Regions from separate parts of the Homo sapiens genome. Here region 2 is linked to region 1. Evidence: fine-mapped expression QTL. Tissue or cell type: whole blood. Region 1 holds a variant in brackets; the other region holds the start of a gene. All regions are shown on one strand. Distances are from middle to middle.

Region 1 (10,769 bases):
CTTAATCGGTACTATCACTTAAAAAAGTAAACCCTTATAGACATCATCTAGTTTTAGAAGTTACCACCGTGTAGACATTTTGAGTCTTATATCCCATTTGTTGAGCAAATGCCAGAAATATTTTTACCTATAAATATTTCGATATAAGTAATTTTAAAAAATATAACACAATACCATTATCATATATAACTTAACAGCAATTCCTTAATATCTAATATAAAGTCTTAATGTCATCCCTTTTATTTCATTCAACAAGTAATATTGGAAAACAAGTATTTAGTTTATTTGGGATCAAGGAAGACTAACAAAAGGGTTTCTTCCTCCTTAGAGAAGTAGGAAGGAGGAGAACTAAACCAGCACTTATTTGGTATCTGCCTTTTGATAGGCATTCACCATCAGTTCCTATGGCAGGAGAGCCAAGACCAAACTATGCTGCTGACAAATTACAATATACTGTCTCAGAGATTTAAGCAAGAATTATCCTGCAGAATTAGATCCAAGGAGGTAAATGTTAGGCATGCATGGCCCATTGATTCTTGATCAGGTTGACCCTTGGACTTAGAAAGAAACAGCAATTACAGTAATTATGGGGAAGTTTGTTCTAAGTGCTATGCCTTATGTTTTTGCTTTTCAAGGGCTCAGATTTGCCTAACTATGCCATCCTTTTGTTCCTTAGGAGAATAAGCAGAGCTCTATGGGAGAGGCGGTTTAGCACAGTGGGTAGAAACTGACCGTGGGCTCAGACAGGATCTATCCTCAGCTTGCTCTCTGGAGGACTCTCTTCTATGAGAGCTGATCATGTGATGGGTTAAGAATAAGGCAGGTATTCTAATGACACATCCCACTTGTCTAGTGACAGTGGTGGTTGGTGTTGGGACATTTCAGAGAAGGTCATCATCCTGTTTTTTATAATCTGTTGAGAATTATTCACAACCCAGCTGATCCTTGGCACCTATGTGTAGAGAAATTTTAATGCACAGGGAACCCTCTTAAAAGATTTTTTAGACTATTATTATTTGTTAAGATTAAATATAAATGGCACATTGATGATGTTTAGAATTGGACCTGTTTCCTTTTGATGTTGTGCTGTAGTCTATTTATACATGTTCACCAAGACCCAGTTACTGTAATACAAGTGGACACCATGAAGTTTAACTGTTACAGTTCCCTGTAAGGGATTGGATAATTTACAGCATAAGATAACAACAGCTTTGTTCCAGCACTAGCTGTGTTGTTGCTGGAAATAAGTTTACTATTAGTCTATAGATTTCCTATTAATCAGCTTTATGATTTCATCCAAGAAGGATCTGTTGAGGGGGAAAAGAGGCAACGTGGTAAATGAATGCAAAGGATATCTCCTCATAACACAGAATTATCTCGTCCAAAATGTCAGCAGTATTGAGATTGAGAAACACTGAATTAGAATAATAAAACACAGTTCAACTCAAGGAAATGAAGCACCCACTCAGCATAATATATGAATCCCCTTTATTCACTTAGTAATAGGAGGGATGGTGCTATGATATTATTATTAAAAATGAGTGCAAATGTCATAGCTTATGCCTGTAATCCTGGTATTTTGGGAGGCTGAAGCAGGAAGATTACTTGACGCCAGGAGTTCAAGACCAGCCTAGCCAACATAGCAAGACCCTGTCTCTATTTAAAAAGACAGAAAGAGAGGGAGAGGGAGGAGAAGAAAGAAAAGAAAAGAAGAAAGAAAATAGATGCTTGATTGATAGACAGACAGATAGGGTTTGGATCTGTGTCCCTGCCCAAATCTCATATTGAATTCTAATCCCCATTGTTGGAGGTGGGGCCTGGTGGGAGGTGATTAGATCACGGGAGCAGTTTCTTATGAGTGGTTTAACACCATACCGCTTGGTGCAGTTCTTGTGATAGTTCTAATGAGATCTGATTGTTTAAAAGCATGTAGTACCTCCCACCTCTTTCTCTTTCTCCTGCTGTGGTCACGTGAAGTGCCTCGCTCCCCCTTTGCCTTGTGCCATGATTGTAAGTTTCCTGAGGCCTCCCCAGAAGCTGAGCAGATACCACTATCATGCTTCCTGTACAGCCTGCAGAACCATGATACAATTAAACTTCTTTTCTTTATAAATTACCCAGTCTCAGGTATTTCTTTATAACAGCGGGAGAAAGGACTGATACAGAAAATTGGTACTGAGGAGTGGGGCTTTGTTATAAAGATACCTCAAAATGTGGAAACAACTTTGGAACTGGGTAATGAGCAGAGGTTGGAAGAGTGTGGAGGGCTCAGAAGATGAGGAAAAATTTGGAACTTCTTAGAGACTGCTTGAATTGTGACCAAAATGCTGATAATGATGTGGACAATGAAACCCAGGCTGAGGAGGTCTCAGATGGAGATTAGAAAATTATTGGGGACTGGAGCAAAGGTCACTTTTGTTATGCTTTAGCAAGGAAGCTGGCTGCGTTGTGCCCCTGCCCTAGGGACCTGTGGAACTTGGAACTTGAATGGTGATGATTTAAGATATCTGGCGGAAAAATTATCTAAGCGACAAAGCATTGAAGATGTGGCCTGGTTGCCTCTAATAGCCTATCTCATATGTGTGAGCAGAGAAGTGACCTGAAACTGGAACTTAGACTTAAATGGGAAGCAGAGCATAAAGGTGAAAAATTTGTAGCCTGGCCATGTGGTAGAAAAGAAAAGTCCATTTCAGGAGAGGAATTCAGACAGGCTGCAGAAATTTGCATAAGTAAAAAGGAACCAAATGCTAATAGCCATGACAATGGGGAGAAGGCCTGGAAGGCATTTCAGAGACTTCACAGGAGCCCCTCCCTCACAGGCTCAGAGGCCTAGGAAGGAAGAATGGTTTTGTAGGTCAGGGCCAGGGTCAGGGCCCCACCACCCTGCACAGCCTCAGGACACTACTCCCTGCATCCCAGCCACTTTAGTTCCAGCTGTAGCTCAAAGGGGCCCAGGAAGAGCTCGGGACACTGTTTCAGAGGGTGCTAGCCACAAGCCTTGGTAGCTTCCATGTGGTGGTAAGCCTGTGGGTGCACAGAGTCCAAGAGTTGAGGCTTGGAAACCTCTGCCTAGATTTCAGAGAATGTATGGAAAACTTTGGATGTTCAGGCAGAAGCCTACTGCAGGGGTGGAGCCCTCACAGAGCACCTCTTCTAGGGCAGTGCAGAGGGAAAATGTAGGCTTGGTGCTCCACATAGAGTCCCCACTGGGGCACCACCTAGTGCAGCTGTGAGAAGATGACCACGTCCTCCAGACCCCAGAATGGTAGATACACCAACAGTTTGCACCCATCACTTGGAAAAGCCACAGGCACTCAGTGCCAGCCAGTGAGAGCAGTGGTGGGGTCTGAACCCTGCAAAGCCACAGTGGTGGAGCTGCCCAAGGCCTTGGGAGCACACCCATCACACCCCTGTGCCCTGGACGTGGGACATGGAGTCAAAAGATTATTTTGGAGCTTTAAGATTTGATGACTGCCCTGCTGGGTTTTGAACTTGTATGGCACCTATAGCCCCTTTCTTTTGGCCAATTTTTCGTTTTTGGAATGGGAGTATTTACCCAATGCCTGTGTCCCCATTGTATCTTGAAAGTAGCTAACTATTTATTTTACAGGCTCATAGGCAAAAGGGACTAATACATATATACATATATATATATAATGCTTCATTTCAAGCTGGGGGTGGTGGCTCACGCCTATAATCCCAGCACTTTGGGAGGCCAAGACGGGCAGATCACCTGAGGTCAGGAGTTCGAGACCAGCTTGACCAATATGGTGAAACCTCATCTGTACTAAAAATACAAAAATTAGCCGGGCGTGGTGGCTTGCGCCTGTAGTCCCAGCTACTCAGGAGGCTGAGACAGGAGAATTACTTGAATCAGGGAGGCGGAAGTTGCAGTGAGCTCAAATTGCACCACTGCACTCCAGCCTGGGTGACAGAGTGAGACTCCGTCTTAGAAAACAAACAAACAAACAAAAATGCTTCATTTCAGTGACACCCTGAGCTGGGAGGGAGTAAAGACTCATAGGCAAAAGGGACTAATACATGTATATAAAATGCTTCATTTCAGTGATACCCTGAGCAAGGAGGGAGTAAAGACTAGGAAGTACTGTTAGGAAGTGACACCACTTTTATTTTTGGAGCTGTCTCTGACCTGTGAATCCTACAGTGAATACTCTTAAATATTTTAGTATCTGTCCAGATGATATTGGTACCCAGATCCTTTAACTATACCTCTGATATTCCAACTGTTTTGCTCTTACCTGAATTTATGCTGCCTATCTTGAACTAGGATCTTAAATTTAAAATGGCACCCAAGACAACACTTTGAAGTTTATTTCCAAAGAGCATAAGAATAAAATGCCCTAGTCTTCCTAAACTAGGTGTTACTTAGCGGGAAGAATTTCTCAAGACAGGATCATAGAGAGAGAGAGTACTATCATATACTACATTAATAACACTAATATACAACCACATAGATATTTATTGTATACACAAGTAATACTTGGAAAATCTGGATTAAGTAAAAGTCGACAAATTTTTCTAACAGTTGCCCAAGCTATACCTGGGCCTTTTTGAGCTGCAGCTAGAGCTGGAGTGGCTGAGATACACAAGCAGTGTCCTGAGGCAACACAGGTGGTGGGGCCGTGGCCTGACCTACAAAACTGTTCTTCCCTCTTAGGGCCTCCAGGCCTGTGATGGGTTGGGCTCCTGGAAAGTCTCTGAAATGCCTAAAATTGGAATTGGCGGGGGATGCGTAACATCTCTTAACATACCATGGACTGATGTCTGTGTTATTTTGCTTACTCTCTTATTTCATGGTCACT[AT/A]TATATGTTGTGGTGGGTGCATGGAGACTGCTTTTTCTTTTTTAAGCTAAACTAAGAATGCCTCATAAGACTTTTCTTTTTTTCGGGTCAATTGTCTTTTTTTTTTTTTTTTTTAAGATTTTTTTGGGCCGGGCACAGTGGCTCACACCTGTAATCCCAGCACTTTGGGAGGCCGAGGCGGGCAGATCACAAGGTCAGGAGATCGAGACCATCCTGGCTAACATGGTGAAACCCTGTCTCTACTAAAAATACAAAAAATTAGCCGGGCGTGGTGGCAGGCACCTGTAGTGCCAGTTACTCAGGAGGCTGAGGCAGGAGAATGGCATGAACCCGGGAGGTGGAGCTTGCAGTGAGCCGAGATCGCGCCACTGCACTCCAGCCTGGGCGACAGAGCGAGACTCCATCTCAAAAAAAAAAAAAAAAAAAAAGGTTTTTGTAGAGACAGTGTCTCTCTTATGTTGCCGAGGCTTGTCTCAAACTCTTCGGCTCAAGCAGTTCTCCCACCTCGGCCTCCCGAAGTGCTGGGATTATGTCATGAGCCACCATGCCCAGCCTACCTAAGTCAGTTGTCTTTTTGACCAGAGCTTCCCAAATACTAATGTACACTTAAGAATTCTGTTAAAATGCAGATTCTGATTCAGTAGATCTGTGGTGTGGCCTGGGAGCTTGCATTTGTAACCAGTCCTCAACTAATGTAGATACTGCTGATCCAGGGGTCACACTCTGAAGAGATAGAGAGGCTGTAGAGGAGTCCAGTCTGTTCTATCACAGGACAATCAGGCAGAGTGCTGTCTCCTCCCATTTCCTCAGAGATGTTATTGCTTCAAACCATCTCATTATATTCACCCTTTCCTTCTCTATTGATTCTTGGCTCCCAGCATGTAATTAAGTTTCAACCATCTTATAAAATCCTTTCACTCCATTTCTCCTGGATGTTTTTCCTTCTGGCTTCTATTAAGAGCTGTCTCCATTTCCTTGTTCTTTTTCTCACCTGTCTTCATAGTCTGACTTCTTCCACCACGGCCAAGGTCATCCTGGTCTTCCTAAAAGCCACAACTAACAAATACTTTTCTGGGTTTTTGTTTGTTTGTTTGTTTTGGTATTTATTTTTACTTTTAGAAAAAGTTTATTATAAAAAAGTAATTGCATGAAAGAAAGCTTGCAAAATAGAGAATAAGTAAAAGAATAATAAAAACATATCATGCATAATATGTAAAGGCTAGAAGAAAATACACCAAAATGTTAACAGTAATGATGACTGTATAGGCGCCCAAAAAGCAAGAATTATACCTTTTTTTTTCTGCTTTTCTGTTCTTAGCTTAAACAGTCCTTTGGGAATATTTGATACTTTTGACTACTCTTCAGTAAACTTCTTTCTTAGCTCCATGACACCGTTTTCTTTCTTTTTCTCTTTCTCTCTCTCTCTCTGTGTCTCCCCGCCCCCGGTCCTGCTCCCTCTCCCTCTTCCTCTCCTTCTTCCTCTCCTTCTTCCTCTCCTTCTTCCTCTCCTTCTCCTCCTTCTCTCTCTCCTCTCTCTCCTTCTCCTTCTCCTTCTCCTCCTCTCCCTCCCTCCCTCCCTCTTCCTTTACCCCCACCCCACCTCACTGGCCTTCCCCAGATTTTTTTTACCAGTTCTTTGTTCCACTTTGAGATATCACCTAAGTCTGTTACTTCAGGTACCATTTTAGGCTGTATGTTCAGCTCCACCCTGACAGCTGCTGCCTAGACAGTTGTGCTGAGTGATCTTCACACCCTTCCGATTTAACACATCCAGCTGAACTGATAGCCCTTCTCTATTCTAGTCTACAGATCCTCTATTCTATAGTGTTCTTTCTCTTACCCCTTGACATTGATTTATTCAGTTAATACGTATCACTTTTCACCTGTTATTGTTTCTGCCTATTAAATATCTCTCCAAATTGTCTTCTGTCATAATTGTATCCTAATTGGACTTCCTGTCTTCATTTTTCAGTCCCTTACACTGTGACCTCTGGGATCTTTCTAAAAATGAAGGTTGAATGTCTCTCTCCAGTTTTATTAACCATGCAGTGGTTCCCCACAGCTTCAGCATCAAACTCCTTAGCTTGGCATGCAGGATGCTTTGATTGCCAACCCCTCACACCATATGCTCTCCATAGTAAACTAGGAGTCGATCAGCTTTACAGTGTTCTCTCCCCTTCTCCACAAAAAAGTATTCTCTGCACTTGAAATGCCCTTCCTTCCGACTTGATCCTCCAAGGGTATGGTTAAGTCTGATCCCTCCTCTGGAATGTGTTCCATGACACCAGCATGTCTTCCTTCTGCCACCAGCCACCACACACAACATCTGAATTGATAGACTTCTTCTTCTCCTTATTCCTGTGTTGTCCTGGGCATGAATTCACCTTAGTATGATATCATTGCACTTGTTTGTCATGTCGGCCCACCAAAAGGATTGAGTTCTTTAAAGACACAGACTCTTTTCATTTCTGCAACCCCCACATGGTAGATAACAAAAGTTTGGATGAGTAAGTATGTATTTGCTTCAACCATGTTCTTCTTCCTTCAGTCTTTCATTCTGGTTATGCTTTGGTCCCATTTGTTACATGTAGGTAGAATTCTGTCCTAAACCTTATCTTTGCCCAAGCATTTTAAAACATGAGATTTTAGAAAATCCAGGTGAGGCTGGGTATGGTAGCTCACACCTATACTCCCAACACTTAGGGAGGCCAAGGTGGGCAGATCACTTGAGGCCAGGAGTTTGAGACCAGCCTGGCCCGCATGGCAAAACCTCATCTCTACAAAAAAATAAAAAATTAGCCAGGCATGGTGGGACACGCCTGCTGTACTCCCAGCTATGAGGTAGGAGGATCACTTGAGCTCAGGAGGGCAAGGCTTCAGTGAGCTGAGATCATGCCACTGCACTCCAGCCGGGGCAACAAAGGGAGACCCTGTGTCTCAAAAAAAAAAAAAAAAAAAAAAAATCCAGACAAGCAAATTGGCCTCTCATCAGGTGCTTCTTCCTTCAGTAGCTGCCTGGAATCTTTGTGGTTTGAAAAGGCCTTTTTAGGTGGAGAGATGTTCATGTCATAATGGCAGGCTAGGTAAACCCCCACCCTTCCCAGAAGCCTTATGCTTATGCTGCTGAAGTATTTATGCTACTGAAGTACTAGATACCACCAAGACTATAGCTGAAAATACAACCAGCTAACCCTAAGACAGATTGCAGTAACCCACCAAGCCACCTAAACTGACAGGATAGATGAATTTCTATGTCCAGAGAGAACACATGACTTACTAAGACATTAGTAACTAGGAAGACTACCAGTTTCAAGTCCCCTTGCTAATACCTGCATTCTGTCTCAGTACTTGAAAGTCTGTAGACTTTATTTGCATTGAGGGACCATCTTGTCTTGGGCTTTGTTGTAACTGGTGGAATGAGTATTTTTATGTAGCTGTAATGAGGTTGTAAACTGAAGGCTTTGTTTCCCCCTTAAATCTATTCTGAGTGTTAAGCCCATGGATGCATACCACAAGACTTCAGTGGAAATCTGACCTGGCCTTCCTCAGCAGTTTTCCAGTATCCCTTGAGGATAGCTTAGTTTAATAAATATTTACCACTCTCCTCCACATTTTGGTAGACTTGGCTGACTAGCATCAGCTTCTTCACCTCTAATTTGGCCATCATCCCCGGAACTTCATAGATGATCCAAACTCTGACTTTGAAAGTTGCATCCATTTTCTGTACTTCTAAACCAGGGTGGCTAAACATTACCCAAGAAAATTATGCTAATAAATGCATGTCATATACTTACACACTCACATTTATCTGTAGCTTATATTCCCATATAAGTGCACAATTATATAGATCGCCATCTACCAAGAGTTTCCCACTTGTACGATGTATTAGAATTCCACGTGTCTAAAAGAAATTTTTCATTCCTTCCTTGAAAACTGATTTTCTTCCTTTTTAATTTATCTCAATTCATGGTATACCCTTTTATCTCATCACTTAAACCAAAAGCGGAGTCATCCATAAACATATCACCATTTTACTCTGTCACTTAAAGTCCTGTTAATTTCTTCACAACAGATATTAGGTTTGAGCTTTGCCATTCATTCTCGTTGCCACCATCTGACCTTTCTTTCTTGGGTCATTGCTCTGGACTCCTCAGTCTCCCTGTGGCCAGTATCGCCCCCTTGTGATTCATTCTCTAAACTCTCCTCTGATTTTGTCCCTCCCCTGCTTCCTACCTTTTCAGGGTTCCTCTGCCTATAGGGCCACATCTCTAACTTTATCTCACGTTCCTGGCCGTCCTCAGCTTCCAACAGAATTGAACTTAAAATCTGCTCCTCTGTCCAGAATGCCCTTCTTCCCCTCAGTTTTCCTAATATATGAGTGGGAGCTTACCTGTCTTTCAGGCCTTCACTTGCAGGGCTTTTCTCTCTCAGAAGTGGTCATGCTACCTTATTCATCTAAGCAACTGAAGGTTTTTCTTCTATGTTCGCATATTGGATGCATATCTATCCTATATACCACATCCTTGAGATGTAAGGTATTCATATTTATCTGAGTGTCCTCAGTGCCTGGTACAAATCAAGCACTCAGGAAATGCTTATTAAATGGAAGAACTAAATTGCTAAGGAATTAAACATTTTTGTGTTACCTCTGACAGAAAGTAGGAACAGGAAATTCTTTTTTTAATTGAAAACATTTTAATATTTACTTTTGAATATAAATAAGCATTCTAAGAATAACTTGGAGTAAAATTTTTCTTTATGAGCTAAGTTTAAATCCACTTGAATTACAAAACGTCAGTCATTGGTTCAGTATACTCAGTACTGAAGAGTAAAATGCTGCAATATTTATGATTTTTAAAACTATTAAGTTTACATAGAAAACCAATTATTAATCTGCATTGCGCAGCTGTTGCTATGTTATGCTGCAGCAACAAACCCTAAAATAAACAACTATTTTTTTTTAAGTTCTGGGATACATGTGCTGAACATACAGGTTTGTTCCATAGGTATACATGTGCCATAGTGGTTTGCTGCACCTATCAACCTGTCATCTAGGTTTTAAGCCCCACATGCATTAGGTATTTGTCCTAATGCTCTCCCTCCCCTTTTCCCCAACCTCCCTACAGGTCCCAGTGTGTGATGTTCCCCTCCCTGTGTCCATGTGTTCTTATTGTTCAACTCCCACTTATGAGTGAGAATATGCAGTGTTTGGTTTTCTAGGAACAGGAAATTCTTAAATGCCATATTCCCCAAACCTTTCTAATCAAATAGTTCTAGTTTCTTCCCCTCTTCAGTTTCCTGCTAAAATTAAGATGTGTTTAGGCTCCCTACTTTCCTTTAATTAGCATTGATACTGGTGATACTAATTTTTGTAAAGGGTAGGAAAGAGACAAAAGATGTAAATAATACAAATTTTATATACTTCCAAAAATAATCCTAGAAATCCAATATAATTTCTAGCTAAAAGGGTTTTAAAGGATGTAGGAAGTATATGCTTTTTATGTTCATTTTTAACTGCAACATAAAACAAATGAAAATTCCTTTGACTTGTATTAAAGATAGCTGATCCTAATAAAGGAAAGATATATGTAGTGAGAAGACTATTAGATTCTAATCCTGCGTCTGCTGTAATTATGTGTGGTCTTGGGCAAGTCGTTTCTCCTTTTGCAGCTCAGTCATATCTACAAAATGAGAAAATTATAGATTGTAGATTTAGCAATGGCCCTTTTCCTTCTAGTGAAACACAGAGAAACTGTATGAGAGAAGTAACACCACAACAGCTCTACTTTGGAACTGGTGATGCTATAGAAAGAGGCGGGGAAGAGGCAGAGGTTCTCCCTCCACAGGGCTGTCCCTACTCCATCTCATTCCAAAAGGTGGCCCCTGCAGAATTGCCTTGAAATACAGTTTAAAAGCCACTATTGGATGATATACGAGTTTTTCTT
Region 2 (10,769 bases), 91 kb before region 1:
GCTTCAACATGGAACCAGATTATTGAACCAGAAACAATGAATATTTGGATAATAATAAGCTAACCAGAAATAGGTCATGAGTGGAAAAGCAAAACAAGAAATATTACTAAGAATGTTATCCAACTAGACTAGAAATGGCATATCAAGTAGATGAGAAAAACCAAGTACAATAAGGAGGGTTGTTGAAGCACCTGGAATGACTACGCTAAGACAATAGCTATAAAAGATAATGCCCTTGAAGACCCAGCTTAAAAGACTCTCCCTCTGCAAAACCTACCCTCATTTCACCCCCAAAAAATTGTACTCTCTAAAATAATAGAGCTCCTCTCCTGTAGCCTTCATCAGGCCAAAGTTATTTATGACTTAGCACAAGACAACTCTCCTTTAAGGCAGGGTCCTTGTTGGGCTCATTTAACTCCTATGGTTTTTTTTGTTTGTTTGTTTTTAGAGACTGAGTCTCATTCTGTCGCCCAGGCTGGAGTGCAGTGGCACAATCTCAGCTCACTGCAACTACCCCCGAGTTCAGGTGATTCTTCTGCCTCAGCCTCCCAAGTAGCTGGGACTACAGGTGCGTGCCACCATGCCCAGCTAATTCTTGTATTTTTAGTAGAGATGGGATTTTGACATGTTGACTAGGCTGGTCTCAAACTCCTGACCTCAGGTGATCCACCTGCCCCGACCTCCCAAGGTGCTGGGATTACAGACATGAGCCACTGCGCCCAGCCTCCTGTGGTTTTTTGTTTTTTGTTATTGCCAGTTGTGAGAGTTGGGGCAGAGGGAGAGATATATTTCCTTTGCAGCTACAGTTCTTATTAACAGGTTGAAGGTGGAGGAGGACAAGGAGGAGAGGAAAGGAAGGGGGAAACAACCTCAATGTTTAAGAAGTGTCCTCTGTGTGCTTGACATAGTGCTAGACATTTTATATATGTCATCTCAGAGGGGAAACTAAGGCTTAGAGCATTTAGTAATCTATCAAAGATCACTCAACTGATGTTGAGTGGTAAAGTCAGGATTTGAATCTAATTATTTCTTCTTCCAAAACTGGTACTGAGTTCCGGTGTGGTGGTTCACACCTGTAATCCCAGCACTTTGGGAGGCCAAGGCAGGTGGATCACTTGAGGCCAGGAGTTTGAGACCAGCCTGGTCAACATGGCAAAACCCCATCTCTACTAAAAATACAAAAATTAGTCGGGTATGGTGGTGTGCACCTACAGTCCCAGCTACTTGGGAGGCTGAGGCATGAGAATCGCTTGAACTCAGGAGGTGGAGCTTGCAGTGAGCTGAAATCGCACCACTGCACTCTAGCCTGGGTGACAGAGAGAGACTTTTTCTAAAAAACAAACAAACAAACAAACTGGTACTGAGTTTAAGTATTTGCTGGAAAATTAGTTCTGTTATGGTACTTGGAGATGGCTGAAGGAAGGCATTTCACAATTGTTCTTAATTATTTCTGGGTCATGGAAGAATCTCTCCCATAAAAGTGTACATGTGCAAATATATACATCATTATCAGTTTTGCATACCATTTCAGAAGGAGTGGCTAAGGAACCATGGAAACCAAGGCAAAAACCTCAAGATTACAGTATTCCCAACCACCTTCTCCCATTCCACTCCACCCTATCCCTCTTCCCAAAGCCTGAGAGTAATTAAAACCAAAGAAAATATAAACATGAAAGTTTAGTTGGGAGAAGCAAATGCAAACTTCTAATATAGTATTGTACTCAAAAATGTCATGGAGAACTTGATTAGGAGACACTGAAGAATGTAGTGCTACAATCTTGAAATTTCACAGTTATGACCTTCAGACCATATATGATGTAAGGCTGAGAGACAGAGTTACCACAACACATCCTAAGAGACTGAAAATAGCCGAAAATCAAACTGAATGGAAAATTCCAGGAAGTATACTATATTTAATGGAAGAGAGGTTTATTTCTGTTATTTTGTCTGGGGGACTTTTCTTGAAAAATATGTTTGGATTTTTATGGGCTAAAGAAAATGTTTTAAATGAGGTTTATGTGATTTTTATTTATACCCTGTATTTTTTCGAAGATTTAAGAGATTATAGGTTTATAGAAAATATAACAAAATATTATGAATCATACATAGGAAAAAAGGTAGAGACATAAAATAGAGCCAGGAACAAACTTAATTTTAAACCATGAATTTATATAGTGATTAGGCCTTTAGTTCCTCAAGTTAATTTCTTTTTTTTCTTTTTAATTTTCTGTAGAGACAGGATCTCACCATGTAACCCATGCTGATCTTCTTGAACTCCAAGGCTCAAGGGATCCTCCAGACTTTGCCTCCCAAAGTGTTGGAATTACATGCATGAGCCACCGCACTCAGCCCCTCAAGTAATTTCCAAAAATTATGCAGTGCAAAGAGTTTTATGTATTAGGTATACATTTTTCATAATTTACACAGTATTTTCACATACATTATCTCATTTGATCCTAAATGGACTTTGTTAAGCAGTTATTATCCACATATTCCAAATAAGGAAACTGAAGCCCAGAGAAGAACTTGAAAATCCTGTTCTTCAAGGTGGGAGAATTGCTTGAGGCCAGTAGTTCAAGACCAGCCTGAGTAACAGAGGGAGTCTCCATCTCTCCAAATAATAATAATAATAATAAATGATATAGGCGTGGTGGCATGTGCCTGTGATCCCAGCTACTCAGGAGGCTGAGGCAGGACAATCACCTGAGCCCAGGAAGTCAAGACAGCAGTAAGCCATGACTGGGTCACTGTACTCCAGCCTAGATGACAGAGCAAGACCTCCTCTCAATCAATCAATCAATCAATCAGAACAATATGCATTTGACATCTATGGCCCCTGCATTTTCACGAGAGGATTACTACCTTCTTTACAGATGGCTTTAGATTTGGAGGCTGGCTAAGCATAAAATTAAAAGACGTCATGCTTGGAATAGCCCTTTTAAGAAACACTTAACTCCTTTACTTAATAGACAAGTGCACTGAACCACTCATAATTTTTTAAATTATTTTTATTTTAATAATTATTTTATTTATTAAGACACAAGGTCTCAATCTATAGCCCAAGCTGGAGTGCAGTCGCACCATCCTAGCTCACTGCTGCCTCAAACTGCTTGGCTCAAGCTATCCTCCCTCTTCAGCCTCCCAAGTAGCTGGGACCGCAGGCACAAGCCATCGCAACCTGTGCTCTGAAGCTTTAAGAGGCCAAACGATTCCTCACATTCATCCGATCAGTTACAGGTAGAGCCAAGACCAGAAGCCAGGTATCCTATTTTCCTTATAACACATTGCCTCTATAGCTTTATATCCATTTCTATGATTTTTGTTACATACCCAGTTCTGACCATTTCCTGTCACAATTTCCTTTGTCTACTAAGTAAAGTTCTAAATGCATGGTGACATAACATACAAGGCCCTACATAACCTGGCACAAGAGACCTCTCCAGGTACTCTCCTCCTCTAACAGTGTAGGAATACTCCTGACTCCTAGGATGCCAGGCATTTGTATAACATCCTAATAGAGTTGTGCTGGTGAAGGAAGGCCACATCCCTCTATCTTGTGAGAGTGAAGACTTGAGTTTCTCCATCACCAAGGAAGACTTGGGTGAAGGCACTCAAGTGGGAGGGACAAAATGACATCTGAAAACTGGAGGCCTTGGGCAGGGACCTCCCCTTCCTCAAACTAAAGGTGAATGAACCAAATTTTGCGATTCCAGGTAGCTTTTCATGTCAAATTTTCATGTCAAATTCTTCCGTGCCATCTCTGACCCTTTAGTAAAATCCCCTCCAAATATTCCAGAAAAACCTTGTGAGTTCATATTTGGCAAGGCCATCCAAAGCATGTTAGCAACCCAGCATGATGGTGTCAGTACTAATTACATAATGAGAGGCCCCAAAGAGAAGAGTATTAGGCAACAGGAACGAGGGCCACTAAATCCCAATCGCTTTTCCCCAGCAATGATTCTCCTTCAATATGAGGTTATGGGTTATGAGGATATGAGTTAGTCAATTAGCTTCCTTATGCAACTTCAAATTCCCTGAACAGATCCAGGAATTTTGCACATTCTGTTCCTTGTCCATAAACTTTGGTTCCCCTCCCCAAACTGTTGTTCTTTCGACAAACTCTATACATAATTCATATTCCTGGCTCAGAAATCATAATCTCTAAGTAACCTTTCCTGACACCCTATTCTCCACCTCCTCTTCCATAACCTGTGGTCTTTTTGAACAGAGTGGTGACATTTTGGGCTGGATGACTGAAAAAGCAAAGTAGAAAAACAGAACATAGAACATACAGGGCCTCCAGTTGCTGTGCCTGGCGGTACATGAAACATAGTATTCAATAACTATTCTTTGAATGCACAGTCATTTTGTTTTTTCCTTTAACAGTATTTCCTAATAGGTAACTCATGAACACTGCAAAAAATGTCAAACTGCACAAAAAAATTCAGGGAAAAGTACATTTTCCCCCCAATCCCATTCCCTCCTTTCTCTTAATACCAGTTAGCTTTCCTTTCAGATTGATTATGCATATATGGGTATGTAAATGTTTTCCCACTATTTGTTACACATAAAAATTATATACAATTCATATATTACATATGGTGCATGTTATATACACACACATAAACAGATCATCTCGGTTTTGCTTAACCTAAGTCAGGCTTTTTTTTTTTTTTTTTTTTTAGAGCAGCCCTCAGAACCAGGACAGGTTCAGAGACTTTATTTATTTTTTATTTACTATTATTATTTTGAGACGGAGTCCCGCTCTGTCGCCCAGTCTGGAGTGCCGTGGTTCAATCTCGGCTCACTACAACCTCCACCTCCCAGGTTCAAGTGATTCTCCTGCCTTAGACTCCGAGTAGCTGGGATTACAGGCGAGCACCACCACGCCCGGCTAATGTATTTTTAGTAGAGACGCGGTTTCGCCATGTTGGCCAGGCTGGTCTCGAACTCCTGACCTCAGGTGAGAGCAACGTAGTACTCCACTGTGCGTGCATACCATGATTTACTTTGCAGTCCCAGATTTACGGTTTCCAATTTATAAATACTGCCATTTTCACCTTCAAGCCCCGATGCCAAACACAGAAATACCAGGCCACCCCCACCCCCTCGCCGTGTGCCTCCCACATTTTCACACACATTTTCAGGAGCCCAGGGCGCAGCCTCACACCGAACGCCGCCTCTGCCGTCCCCTCACTTGCCCCGTGCCCCCACCGCAGGGCTGAAGGCGACGGAACCGAGCCTTTGTACCCCCACCAGCCCCGTTCCCTGGCGTCTCCCGGCCGCCGGGCTCGCCCGCTCAAACGTGGCGGAACAACCGGAGCCGGGCCCCGCCCTGCTGGAAGACAGGGCGGACCGGGCAAGGCAGGCGCGGGGCGGGGCGGGGCGGGGCTCCGGCTGGCGGGGCGCGGCCAGCGTGCAGGGCTGGGCCAGCGTGCGGGGCTCCTCCCCTTTCCTCCGGCGGCGCCGGCGGCCGCAGAACTTCCGGGTCGGCGCGGAGGCGGGGCGGAGGCGCCGCGGCGGCTGTTATTGTTCGGCTGGGCTCGGTCGGGCGCTGTCTCCCTCGGCTCTGCGGGTGTCAGTTCGTCCGGCTTCCTCACAGCCCCTCACTCCCGGCGGCTGACAGCAGCAGCGGCGGCGGCGGGCGGCGCCTGGCGTTTCGAGGCTGAGCGGCACCGGGGTTGGGGCGCGGAGGAGGAGCAGCAGCGGGAGGAGGAGCCGTGTGCCCTGGCACTGAGCGGCCGCGGCCATGGCGTACGCCTATCTCTTCAAGTACATCATAATCGGCGACACAGGTGAGGGCCCCGGGCGCGGCCGGGCGGGTGTCGGCGGCCTCCGGACCCGGGCTGAGGGGCAAACGGCGTCTGGCGGTGGCGGGGACGCGGACTCCACCCGGCGCCTCCCTCCTGGCCGCGCCGCTCCATTTCCGCAGTGCTGGAGCTGGTGACGTGGGCACTGCGAGCGGCCGCGGCCTGGCCAGGCCCGGTCTGCGGCCCCCGACCCGGCCAGTCTTGCAGCTGAGGGCCGTGGCAGCCGTTTGCGACGCCCGATTCAGGAAGTGTGTGACAGGAGGGGAGGCCTAGCGCAGGGCCGCCGGGGCCCGACTCACATGACTGCACCCCACCCCCAGGGCCCCTTGCGTTAGGTCTCTTCGCGGCCCCAGGAAAAAGAAGGAGGGAAACCTAGGGGAGCAGAAGGTGTTGGGGCCCGGGTCTTGGTTCCTGACCAGTCCAACCTTCCTCCACCAGCACGCATCTATCAAGGCCTGGGCAAGGCGCTTTTTGGCGTGGGACAGGCAGCCGAGAAAGAGAAAAGGAAACCTTTAAAATATGTATTTTATATATATACATATATATAAAATATGCTTTTTTAACACCTTCAACTCTCACGTCAGAATAAGTCACATCTCATTACTTGACGGCTGGAGAATCCCTTTCGGGGTTAGGAAAGCATGAACGAGTTCTGTGGACTTTTGCCACGTGTGAACTGGGGTTATATAGTAATGTAAAGTCGTTCAGTGCTCTGGGTGTGTACTTAGGTATGTGTATGTTGAGGACGCTGATGTTTTAGATATGTCAAGTCCGGTGTCACAACTGCTAATTTTCAGGTGAGCTCATGTCCATGAGCTGAAAGAAATTCAGTTATTCTCACTTAAAATGACGTCCTAGTATATTTCACAGAAAAGTAAACAGACTCTTCGTAGATATTTTTAATACCTGTGATTTGGCATTACTTTGAATCTAATAATAAACATAAAGATTGTTTAGATGTTGCAACTATTAATATACCAGAGTCTGATTTCAGTGGTTACTCTTGCACAACTTTGGACCCTTTGCACAACTTCGGTCATGTAAGCAGCAGTTTGTAGTTGAACTAATGATGTGGCAGGTTCTATAAGTAACTAAAGAAGCATGTTGGCCGGACGCGGTGGCTCACACCTGTAATCCCAGCACTTTCGGAGGCCGAGGTGGGGGATCACCTGAGATCAGGAGTTCGAGACCTGCTTGGCCAACGTGGTGAAACCCCGTCTCTACTAAAAGTACAAAAGTTAGCCGGGCGTCGTGGCAGGCGCCTGTAATCCCAGCCACTTGGGAGGCTGAGGCGGGAGGATCACTTGAGCCCGGAAGGTGGAGTTTGCAAAAAAAAAAAAAAAAAAAAAAAAAAAGCATATTTATTGCTGCCTGAAAGAAAAAATTTCTGCTAGATACATGAGTTTTCAGCAAGGTTTTCTGATGCGTGCGTGCGTGTGTGTGTGTGTGGAAATTGGATTTGTAAACTTTAAAAGAAAAATGCTGTGGTGTATTTGGAAGAAGGAGAATTCTAAAGTCTTCTGGCAAAATTTCATTTAGGCTGTAAAAACAAGATTGGAGAGGAATGCCACATTAACTGTAATATGAGTGGGTTTGAGAAATAGAAGCTTGTGACTGTGGCATTTGGCTATCTCATTAGTGGTGAAAATTCAAATCAGACTTTGCTGGTTGCCTTTTTTCAGTTTTTTATTTGAGGCTGTACTGTGGATAAATAAAGTATTGTGCATGGAGTAGTGGGGCTACAAATCCTAACAAGTTAATGCTCTGTTCTCTTGGAATTTGCTCTTATCCAAAAGCAGTCCCCACGCAATTCAAAGGGAAGACACTTCTTTCTTGTCATTGCTGCTGATACGACCTAGTTCAGGAACAGAATTCTTGACACTGTTATAGTCTGCAGCAGTACTTCTCCCTACTCCAGTTCAGCCAGTGTAGTTTACTGTCAGTTTAGTCATCCTGAAGCATGAATGTCAAAAGGCTACTCCTGTTTGCTCACAATTTTTAGTTTGACCTTCAGTGAACTCTATATTTTAGCCCCTATCTACATTTCTCGCCTTCTTTCCCGCTATTCCCCACCTTGCTTCTGCCATTGAGTCCCAGTGACTGATTTTGGTGTTTTTTTCCTGGGCACTGCTAGTCTCTATTCTTAGAGTGCTTTCCGGCACAATCTCTCCCTGTGGAAGATCCATCAGTCCTTCAAAGTCTTATCTGAGTTTTCCGTAATGCCTTCACAGTCAACATATATTAAGCTCTTATTGTGTGAAGATTTTCACAGTATCCTGGCTGAAAGTGACTACTCCGTTTCTGAATTTATGTTTCTCACTTTGTGTCATTCTTCTGATATTGATCCCAGACTTTTCTGTTGTATAGATACTTGTATAGGCACCTCTATTATGTAGGTACCTATTATATACTTCTTGAAGTCAGAAAAGATGTTTTGTATGGCTCTGTATTTCTTTCAGGAAGAGCGTAGTAGAAGGTAGGCCCTGTATATTTAACTAATAAGAGAGGAGCCAAACAGGCTACTATATTCCTGTTTGTATATATTAATAACTTAACAGAAGTGGTGTCGTTGTTGTTGTTGTTGTTGCCCAGTTCTGCCACCTTCTTGCTTACTAATTTGGGCAAAATCCTTTACCATATTTCTTTAATGCAGAGTGTACCCATAGTTGTAAGATACACTCAGTGTGGCCCTCCCCTAGAAAAGATGACTTTAAAATCAGTAATGTGAGATCCACTTTGATTTTTTAAAAAGTCAGGGTCAAAAACATGCATCTTAGAATGAAGGAAATCACCTAATTTTTCTGTTTCCCTGTTTCCGTAACCTATAACCTTCTCTCAGTATGTGGGATAAAATGAGGATAAATGTGAAAGTACTTTGATTTCTCAAAGGAAAGGAACAATGCACATTTTTCCTTTTCAGAATTCCCTCTTTAATAGAAGAGGTTTTAAAAACTTTTACATGATCATGATGATACTATTGAGCTGTTTTCTTACTGTAAGACTAAATGCAGTTAAAATGTAGCTTTAAATTTTTTCCTTGTTCCTGTCTTGTTTCTGAATCATTTAGTAAAATGTGTCATTTAAATCTAGATGTAAAGTGGAAAGTGGTTTTTAATAAGCAGTTAATTATCAAGCATGGAGAGAAAAAATACGAATCTATAGTAATTTTTCTTCTGAAATTCTAGCATCTGCCAACCATTTTAACCTTATCACTAACCCTCCCTGCTGCTCAACGCTCAGCAAGGTAAACAAAGGCACAGGTTTGGTTGTGTTCTTATTTCTGCTAATATCTGAAGCACTCCTTCTTGTTCTTCCCTATCAAAAAAAGTTATGTCAAAAATTTTTGTCACCTGGCCAACTCCTTTTTATCCATTCTTTTGAGAGTTTAACAAATCCTACCACTCCCTGTTGCATTTTATGCTGGTCCCCTCCTCTCTTCCCTCATTCTGTTTCCCTTCTCTTCAGTCCCAGTCCCACTTACATTTTATTTTTTATTTTTCACTCTTATGTATATACCCACCACTTCCATTTTATTTTATTTTACTTATATTATTTATCTATCTATTGAGACATGATCTCTGTTGCCCAGGCAGGAGTGCAGTGGCACTATCACGGCTCACTCACTACAGCTTCAGTCTCCTGGGCCTAAGCAATCCTCCCACCTAAGTCTTCCAAGTAGCTGGGAACACAGGCACATGCCACCATGCCTGGCTAATTTTTAAATTTTTGTAGAGATGGGCTCTCACTGTGTTGCTCAGGCTGGTCTCAAACTCCTGGGCTTAAGCCATCCTCCCACTTCAGCCTCCCAAAGTGCCAGATTACAAGCACAAGCCACAGCTCTCAGCCCCACTTGCATTTTAAATTATCTTTTTAGTTAGGAAGGTCTTTGCCTTTGTCTTAGATGCCAGGGTACACCATTGAGTGTCAGATTTATTTAATAGTTAAGTGGATGGATCCTTGAGGGGAGGCACTAGGTGATGTTTCAGCTGAAATTAGAATGATGAGTAGGCACCGCCAGAGTGGGCATGGGGGAATGTCTGGTATGTAGTTGAAAGTTTATTTCTGGCTCAGGAGAGAGTAATCTGGGATAGAGACTTGGGAGCTAATAACATAAAATGGAGTCCCTATTACCTGAGAGTTCATTTTCTGAGCTTTTGAAATTACAAGGTTATGTAGGGAAGAAAAATTCTCATGATATGAAAATAATTATTAATAAGTTATCACCTTAAAAAATTAACTACTCAAGCTTACTTCTAATTCCCATCCTCCTGATTGGCGTAGGGGCTTGCTGATCATAATATAGTTCAAATTAGTTGCAAAGTGAAATTATGTATCATGCTAAAATTGCAAGCATTTGTTTCTTTTTTTTGAGATGGAGTTTTGCTCTTGTCACCCAGGCTGGAGTGCAGTGGCGCCATCTGGGTTCACTGCAACCTCCACCTCTTAGGTTCAAGCGATTCTCCTGCCTCAGCCTCCCCAGTAGCTGGGATTACAGGCGTCTGCCCCCACGCCCAGCTGATTTTTGTATTTTTAGTAGAGATGGAGTTTTGCCATGTTGGTCTGACTGGGTCTCGAACTCCTGACCTCAGGTGGTCCACTCACCTCGGCCTCCTTAAGTGCTGGGATTACAGGTGTGAGCCACCGCGGCAAGGCAGCATTTGTTTCTTTGATGCAAGTGATTTGGAGCATTGGTTCACATGCAAAACCATTGACAAATGGGGATCTGACAAAGTTGTCCTCCTGGAATGAAGTAGGTGGTGATTGTTCATTGAATGAATTGACAGATGAAAGCTTGGATGTAATGGTGGGAAATACTAGTGTTCATGGGGCACATGGGGAAAGTTATCAGCATAGTAGGCTAACAAGGAATAATCAAAAGAGCAAGAGAGACCTGGGCAGTACAGTGTCATGGAATCTGCAGAGAAGGCAGATCCCAGAGAGGGAGTGGTTACCAGTGTC

Evidence for each region. PIP is the estimated chance that this variant, and not a neighbour inherited with it, causes the effect.
Region 2: RAB2A starts here. The variant in region 1 is fine-mapped to the expression of RAB2A in whole blood (INTERVAL, PIP above 0.99).

What each region holds. Positions count from the first base shown.
Region 1 is chr8:60,602,198-60,612,966 of GRCh38, forward strand. All of the region lies in intron 6 of RAB2A (RAB2A, member RAS oncogene family), which reads left to right. Among named protein-coding and RNA genes, the nearest start is that of CHD7, 71 kb to the right of the region's middle. The variant AT/A (reference allele first, on the strand shown) is at 4,824.
Region 2 is chr8:60,511,459-60,522,227 of GRCh38, forward strand. It overlaps RAB2A (RAB2A, member RAS oncogene family), which reads left to right and starts at 5,529. Exons shown (of 8, transcript NM_002865.3): 1 at 5,529-5,795. The coding sequence starts at 5,750. LOC124901949 (a long non-coding RNA gene) reads left to right here. Exons shown (of 3, transcript XR_007060922.1): 3 at 2,234-5,340. RefSeq lists enhancers at 4,677-5,537, 6,773-6,962 and a silencer at 5,113-5,982.